Homo sapiens: one gene and its partner. The protein of the gene in region 1 purifies or fractionates together with the protein of each later gene. This does not show direct contact. Each region holds a gene or a part of one and is shown in the gene's direction. Other genes may lie near its edges.

Region 1 (4,512 bases):
ATCACATCCTGCCGGATAAAAGGCCAAACTGCCTCAGGAACATCTTACGCACATCCTTTGGCCGGGTGCTGTGGCTCACGCCTGTAATCCCAGCAATTTGGGAGGCCGAGGCGGGCGGATCACCTGAGGTCAGGAATTCCAGACTGGCCTGACCAACATGGTGAAACCCTGTCCCTACTAAAAATACAAAAAAATTAGCCGGGCGTGGTGGCACGCGCCTGTAAAGCCAACTACTCGGGAGGCGGAGTTCAAGAATCGCTTGAACTCCGGGAGGCGGAGGTTGCAGTGGGCCGAGATCACGCCATTGCACTCAAGGCTGGGCGACAAGAGCGAGACTCCTCCAAAAACAAAAAAAAACCCACCATCCTCCTGGGCAGCAAGTCATACCCTCCCGCCGCGCCCCCTGCCCCCCACCCCTGACCCCTCTCATCCAGGCCTATAATTGCCCCAGCCTGTAAGCAGTGAGGGGTTCTGGCACTAAGCTAGTTCTCCCCATCACAGGTCTCGTGCTGGACATAAAACCTGCATTGCTGTAGAGCTGCCAACTCTGCCTTTCTTTAACCCTCGCCTTCCCTTCAAAACCTAACAGTTATTATTAATAGATTTCTGTAATTTTCATTTCACAAGTATTTTCACAGATAATTTCAACTCCCTGTAAAATGATAACTCACTTCTCAGGAAGGAGATAAGATCATGAAAGTTCACAGTTTTTATTGGGGATAATACGTTCCCTGTGTACATATACTCCAACTATGGAATGGCACAAAATGTCCTGTCAGGAAATGGCATGTATCAGTCACTCTCATTTTCAGACAGGATTGAGACTTTTAAAATAAATGTAAAATATTTCAGACATGAAGTAATAAGTATTATTAGAATAAAAGCATTGCACTCTTGGTAGGAACACAATCACTGACTCTACAGACAGTAATGATGTTTTCTTCTGGATCCAGAGGCACAGCGTCACCCTTTCAATCTACGTCGGTATCTCCTGTCTTCTTTTGTGCAAATTCCCAGCCATGTAGTCTTTCTTTGTTCTCTTGGACCAACCATATTGAAGCTTAATAAATAGAAGTCAAAGTTTAACTGTATGTGTATTTGAAAAGCAACATATGGCTGAGAGGCATGAGTAGAGACAGAGTGCCTTTGTGGTATAGTGTGTCCCTTTGGCGGTGTAGCCGTTGAGAACTTGCTGTGCTTCACAATCCGATATCATAGGTCCCTCACATTTCTGTGAGTATCCTAGACCTTACTTCAAGAAAATCTGGTTATGTCGCCTTTAAGAGCAACCCAAGCCCCGTCCTGTCCGTGGAGTCCGGCACTCTGTTTACCAGCTCCCCTGACGGTGCCACTGAGCCTCTATCCGCCATATAAGGACTGACCAACGCTCTAAGGCAAGTCCAGAAGCGGTGTCGAAACTTCATAACCCAGAAGACACTGCGGTTCTCGGCAGCGCGACTGACCCAATGAATGTGCAGGAAGGAACCTTTGCGTGCGTGCGTGCGTGCGTGCGTCCGTCCTCGTGCTCGCGCATCGTAGGAGGGCGGGACTTCCGGCGTCCTCTTGCCGTGGTTGATTTGATTTTCTCTGGTGTTTTCACTAGTTCCGGCCTTTGGCGCTCTATGACGTCACCGAAGTGACGGAGCGGAAAAGCGCGAGAAGCGGCTTGGTTCCTTGTACGCAGAGGCGGTAGTGACACAGGCACAACTGACAGTGGCAGAAGCTCAGCTGACAAGGACTGGGGACGGCGGTGTCCTTGTCTTGCCTTTGTCGCCCCCGCCCCTCTCTTCCCTGGCTGGACTTGCGGAGTCCCCGCCGAAGAACCCGAGGTGGGTGCCCCGTCCCAGGCCCCCCCCCACCTCCGCCCGACCCCTCCTTCCAGTGCTGAAGCCCATAGAAGGGGCCCTGCAGGTCAGGCCCCTTGTCTCGAAGAGAGGGGCGTTCCTGTGTGGGGTCCCCGTATCAGCTGGTTTGATGCAGCCTCAGAGCTCCCTTCGGGGATCTCAGGTTCAGAGCATGGAGGTGCTGCCAAGTGGGCCGCGTCGGGGAGCCCGGAGTGTGGGTTGTTTCTGCGGGAAAGAGAGGGTTTTGTGAATTTTCTCTTGGAATGGCAGCCTGAGCAGCCGGTATAACCATGGAAGGTTGTCAAGGGAAGACCAGTGGGAGGGGCAGGTCCAGAGTTAGAACGAGCAGGATGGGGAATTGACACAGAGAGACCCAGAAGAGGCCACTGCAGTGGATCCCAGAGGCTGCACCAGAGCCGTGGTATAAGAGGGACAATGTGATGGGATTCTGGATAGACCTGGAAGATAGAGCCAACAGGTTTTCCTGCCGTATCAGATATGTCTGTGAGCAAAAATAGGGAGTGAAGGGTCATTTTTTTTTTTTTGCCCGAACATCTGAAAGAATGAAGTTGGGGAAGTCAGCAGCATGAGAAGTAGGTTTCATGGAGAAGATCATGGGTTGGAGTTTGGCCAGTGTGATTCTCAGGCGTCTCAAGTTGAAAATGTCACATGGGTAGGGGGACAGAAAGGTGTGGAGTCTACAGAGGAGAACTGGTGTAGATTCTTCAAAAGAATAGAGGGTGGCCGGGCGTGGTGGCTCACGCCGGTAATCCCAGCACTTTGGGAGGCCAAGGCGAGCGGATCACAAGGTCAGGCGTTCAAGACCAGCCTGACCAACATGGTGAAACCCCGTCTTTAGTAAAAATACAAAAATTAGCCGGGGGTGGTGACGCGCGCCTGTAATCCCAGCTATTCGGGAGGCTGAGGCAGGAGAATTGCCTGAACCCAGGAGGTGGAGATTGCAGTGAGCCAAGATCGCGCCATTGCACTCCAGCCTGGGCGACAGAGCGAGATTCCGTGTCAAAAAAAGGTGCGGAGCGCGGGTCTCTTCCGCGGAAACTGACATTGCGTTTCCGTTGTCGGCCTCCCGCTGCAGGAGCCATATATTGAAGACCATGTCTGGAAGCTTCTACTTTGTAATTGTTGGTCACCATGATAATCCAGTTTTTGAAATGGAGTTTTTGCCAGCTGGGAAGGCAGAATCCAAAGACGACCATCGTCATCTGAACCAGTTCATAGCTCATGCTGCTCTCGACCTCGTAGATGAGAACATGTGGCTGTCGAACAACATGTACTTGAAAACTGTGGACAAGTTCAACGAGTGGTTTGTGTCAGCATTTGTCACCGCGGGGCATATGAGGTTTATTATGCTTCATGACATAAGACAAGAAGATGGAATAAAGAACTTCTTTACTGATGTTTATGATTTATATATAAAATTTTCAATGAATCCATTTTATGAACCCAATTCTCCTATTCGATCAAGTGCATTTGACAGAAAAGTTCAGTTTCTTGGGAAGAAACACCTTTTAAGCTGAATGGAGAAAATTCCAAAATAAATTATATCACCACAATGGTGTATACTCAGGAATGTGTACATTGTAAATTACTTGATTAAATAGCCTGGAAATCTTTTGTGTATTCTCAGCTTATCTAAACTTAATGAAATTTCTTTTATATTTAAAAATAGTACATTCTGTCTCATGTCACATATCAGTAGATCAATTAGTATTTCCTTGTGAACAATGTTATTTATAAAGAACTCATTATCAATAATAATTAATTTCTTTCTTTTTTTTTTTTTTTTGAGACGGAGTTTTGCTCTTGTTGCCCAGGCTGGAGTGCAGTGGCACAGTCTCGTCTCACTGCACCCTCCGCCTCCCAGGTTCAAGCAATTCTGCCTCAGCCTCCCGAGTAGCTGGGATTACAGGCTCCCACCACCATGCCTGCCTAATTTTTTTTGTATTTTTAGTAGAGACGGAGTTTCGCCATGTTGGTCAGGCTGGTCTTGAACTCCTGACCTCGTGATCTGCCTGCCTCGGCCTCCCAAAGTGCTGGGATTACAGGCATGAGCCACCACTCCCGGCCATGAAATATTTTTACTTAAAAATTGGGAATAAGCTTTCTTTTTCTTTCTTTCTTTCTTTTTTTTTTTTCTTTTGAGATGGAGTCTGGCTCCTGTTGTGCAGGGGCTGGAGTGCAGTGGCACGATCTTGGCTCACTGCAACCTCCACCTCCCGGGTTCAAGCAATTCTCCTTCTTCAGCCTCCCAAGTAGCTAGGATTACAGGCATGCACCACCACGCCTGGCTAATTTTTGTATTTTTAGTAAAGACGGGATTTCACCATATTGGTCAGGCTGGTCTTGAACTCCTGACCTCGTGATCCGCTCGCCTCGGCCTCCCAAAGTGCTGGGATTACAGGTGTGAGCCACTGCGCCTGGCCATGAAATATTTTTTACTTAAAAATTGGGAATAAGCTTTTTTGTGTGTGTGTGTATGTTTTTGTTTTTTTGTTTTTGAGATGGAGTCTTGCTCCTGTCATGCAGGCTGGAGTGCAGTGGCACGATCTTGGCTCACTGCAGCCTCTGCCTCCCGGGTTCAAGCAGTTCTCCTTCCGCCTCCAGAGTAGCTGGGATTACAGGCATACGCCTGGCTAATTTTTGTATT
Region 2 (3,795 bases), on another chromosome or scaffold:
CTGTCTTGTCACAGTCCCAGCACAGCCTGGGAGGACATCGCCTGCGTGTCCGCCCACGGGAGCAGAAGGAGTTCCAGAGCCCGGCCTCCAAATCCCCCAAAGGAGCGGCCCCCGACAGTCACCAGCTGGCCAAAGCGCTAGCTGAGGCTGCAGACGTGGGGGCACAAATGATAAAGCTTGTGGGGCTGAGGGAGTTGTCCGAGGCCGAGCGGCAGCTTCGCAGCCTAGTGGTGGCCCTGATGCAGGAGGTCTTCACAGAGTTCTTCCCTGGTAAGTTACCTCCCCTACTATGTCTGAGCCCTCCCTGGCCTTTGCTCTCCTGTGTCTGTATCCCCAGTCCTTCCTCCGCTAGAGGTGTTTGGTTGCTCTTCCATCTTTGTGCTCTGTTTTGTTCTTCCCCCTGCTCCTCCCTAACTTCTCTTGACCTTTCTTCTCTGCTCGGCACCCAGGCTGTGTGGTCCACCCTTTTGGCTCTTCCATAAATAGCTTCGATGTCCATGGCTGTGATCTTGACCTCTTCTTGGATCTGGGTGACTTGGAAGAGCCCCAGGTGAGTGAGTGTCCCAGGGAGGCAGCTGGGAAAAGTCCATGAGAATGGCCATGTGACTGTGGGCAAGTCCTTTAGCTCTCCATGTCTTAGTTCCTCATCTACAATGCAGATAATAGGACCTACCTGAAAGAGTTTATTGTAATTGGAGAGATGTGAATATGGATGAGTATTAGATAGGATGAAAATGAACTGACAGGGCCAGGCGCAGTGGCTCGCGCCTGTAATCCCAGCACTTTGGGAGGCTGAGGTGGGTGGATCACCTGAGGTCAGGAGTTCAAGACCAGCCTGGCCAACATATAGTGAAACCCCCATCTCTACTAAAAAAAAAATACAAAAATTAGCTGGGTGTGTGGTGTACACCTGTAGTCCCAGCTACTTGGGAGGCCGAGGCAGGAGAATCACTTGAACCCGGGAGGCAGAGGTTGCAGTGAGCCGAGATTGTGCCACTACACTCCAGCCTGGGTGACAGAGGGAGACTCCTCAAAAAAAAAAAAAAAAAAAAAAGAATTGACATGGATACCTGGCAGTCATAACAAAAAAAAAATTTCAAAATGGTGTGTGCAATATGATCTTATTTTGGAAAAAATATATTTAAAATTATACAATAAGGTCCTTTTAGTTTTGCTTATGTGTATTTTTTTTTTTTGAGAGACCGTCTAACTCTGTCACCCAAAATGGAGTACAGTGCTGTGATCTCGGCTCACTGCAACCTCCACCTCCTGGGTTCAAGTGATTCTCGTGCCTCAGCCTCCCAAGTAGCTCGGAATACAGGCACACGCCACCATGCCTGGCTAATTTTTTGTATTTTTAGTAGAGATGGGATTTCTTCATGTAGGCCAGACTGGTCTTGGACTCCTGGCCTCAAGTGATCCACCCACCTTGGCCTCCCAAAGTGCTGGGATTACAGGAATGAGCTACCATGCCCGGCCACTTAACCTGTATTTTCTAACATCTAATGTACAGATTCTGTTTAGGAAAGGATTATTATTATTACTTAGAAATAGGGTCTCACTATGTTTCCCAGGCTGGTCTCGAACTCCTGGGCTCAAGGAATCCTCCTGCCTCATTCTCCCAAATTGTTGGGATTACAGGTTTAAGCCCCCATGCCCAGCCTATTATTATTTTCAAAAAATAGACTTGGCCGGGCGCGGTGGTTCACGCCTGTGTAATGCCAGCACTTTGGGAGGCAAGGCAGGTGGATCACCTGAGGTCAGGAGTTTGAGACCAGCCTGGCCAACATGGTGAAATGCTGTCTCTACTAAAAATACAAAAATCAGCCGGGTATGGTGGCACGTACCTGTAATCCCAGCTACTCAGGAGGCTGAGGCAGGAGAGACAGCTTGAACCCAGGAGGCGGAGGTTGCAGTGAGCCGAGATCGCGCCACTGCACTCCAGCCTGGATGACAGATTGAGACTCCATCTCAAAAAAAAAAAAAAAAAAATGGACTTTATTTTTTAGAGCAGTGTTAGATTCACAGCAAAAGTGAGCAGAAAGTAGTTTCTATATGCCTGCTGCCCCCGCAACAGGAGTTTTAAAATGTTTTATCATTATTTTTATCTTTCTCTACACACACACACTCTCTATTTATATTTTCTGAATCATCTGAGAGAAGGTTGCATGTATCACATTCCTTTACCCCTCAATACTTCAATGTGTGTTATGCAAGAACAAAGGTATTCTAGTGTAAAGGTATTCTAGTGTATAACCACAGTACCATTATCAAGTTGAGGAAATGTTACATTGACACAGATGTAAACCTTTACAGACTTTACAGTCCATACTCTAATTTGGTCAGCTGTCCTGTCAATGGACTGTTACAGTTTCTCTTTCGTCTGTAATAGTTCCTCTGTTTTTGTCTTTCACGACAATGACATTTTTTGCAGAGGTAGACCTTTTATTTTATAGAATTAAAAGGTTATCTTTAAAAAAAAAAAGGGTTCCTGTGAAGATTAAATGAGTTAATATGTATAAAGACCTTAGAATAGAGCTGAATAAGCTGGAAGTAATATTATCTTGAGAGATCCCTGCTTAGGGAACAGCAGAAACATTTCACTCAGTTCATTTCTGTCCACAGCCAGTCCCAAAGGCTCCAGAATCTCCATCGCTGGACTCGGCCCTGGCTTCCCCACTGGACCCTCAAGCCCTGGCCTGCACCCCAGCTTCCCCTCCAGATTCACAACCTCCTGCTTCTCCCCAGGATTCTGAAGCCCTGGACTTTGAAACCCCTTCCTCCTCCCTGGCGCCCCAAACTCCGGACTCTGCCTTGGCCTCCGAGACCCTTGCTTCTCCCCAGTCTCTGCCTCCAGCTTCACCACTGCTAGAGGACAGGGAAGAGGGGGACCTGGGGAAGGCCTCGGAACTAGCAGAGACCCCAAAGGAGGAGAAAGCAGAGGGGGCAGCAATGCTGGAGCTGGTGGGATCCATTCTCCGGGGCTGTGTCCCTGGGGTGTATCGAGTCCAAACTGTGCCCTCTGCCCGGCGCCCTGTGGTCAAGTTCTGTCATCGGCCTTCAGGTCTCCACGGTGATGTCTCCCTCAGTAACCGGTACCTTTCTTTTTTTTGAGACGACATTTCACTCGTTGCCCAGGCTGGAGTACAGTGGTGCCATCTTGGCTCTCTGCAACCTCTGCCTCCCAGGTTGAAGTGATTCTCCTGCCTCAGCCTCCCAAGTAGCTGGGATTACAGGCATGCGCCACCACGCCTGGCTAATTTTGTATTTTTAGTAGAGACGGGGTTTCTCCATGTTGGTCAGGCTGGTCTTGAACTCCCGACCTCAGGTGATCACCTGCCTCGGCCTCCCAAAGTGCGGGGACTACAGGCGTGAGGCACCATACCTTTCTTTGGGGCAGGCCAGCTGAGAATTCTGGGATGGGCCAGGAGAGTCTGGCTTGGGAAACTCCTGCACCTGCCAAGTCTCAAGTTTGTCCTTGTTTGGGACCATCCCTCTTTCTGTCCCTTATCTCCTCCTGCCTGGCTTCCATTTCAGTGTTTGTAAAGTGTGTTCCTTAGAATACTACTTTTTTTTTTTTTTTTTTTTTTTTGTGAGACGGAGATTTACTCTTGTTGCCCAGGCTGGAGTGCAATGGTGCGATCTCAGCTCACTGGATCCTCTGCCTCCCAGGTTCAAGCGATTCTCCTGCCTCAGCCTCCCGAGTAGCTGGGATTACAGGCATGTGCCACCACACCCAGCTAATTTTGTATTTTTAGTAGAGATGGGATTTCGCTGTGTTGCCCAGGCTGATCT

What was found.
Region 2: the proteins of ZNF547 (region 1) and TUT1 purify together in Homo sapiens (affinity purification with mass spectrometry; one large-scale study listed by BioGRID and IntAct). This does not show direct contact.

Annotation. Positions count from the first base shown.
Region 1 is NC_000019.10:57,361,875-57,366,386, forward strand, and holds the start of ZNF547 (zinc finger protein 547), read left to right. Parts: upstream 1-1,676; 5' UTR 1,677-1,829; intron 1,830-2,940; exon of another isoform or gene 2,941-2,959; coding exon of another isoform or gene 2,960-3,382; exon of another isoform or gene 3,383-3,531; intron 3,532-4,512. Other genes in the region: TRAPPC2B (trafficking protein particle complex subunit 2B), read left to right, coding at 2,960-3,382. UniProt on the Homo sapiens protein: May be involved in transcriptional regulation.
Region 2 is NC_000011.10:62,577,861-62,581,655, reverse strand, and holds part of TUT1 (speckle targeted PIP5K1A-regulated poly(A) polymerase), read left to right. Parts: coding exon 1-270; intron 271-449; coding exon 450-550; intron 551-2,625; coding exon 2,626-3,095; intron 3,096-3,795. UniProt on the Homo sapiens protein: Poly(A) polymerase that creates the 3'-poly(A) tail of specific pre-mRNAs. Localizes to nuclear speckles together with PIP5K1A and mediates polyadenylation of a select set of mRNAs, such as HMOX1.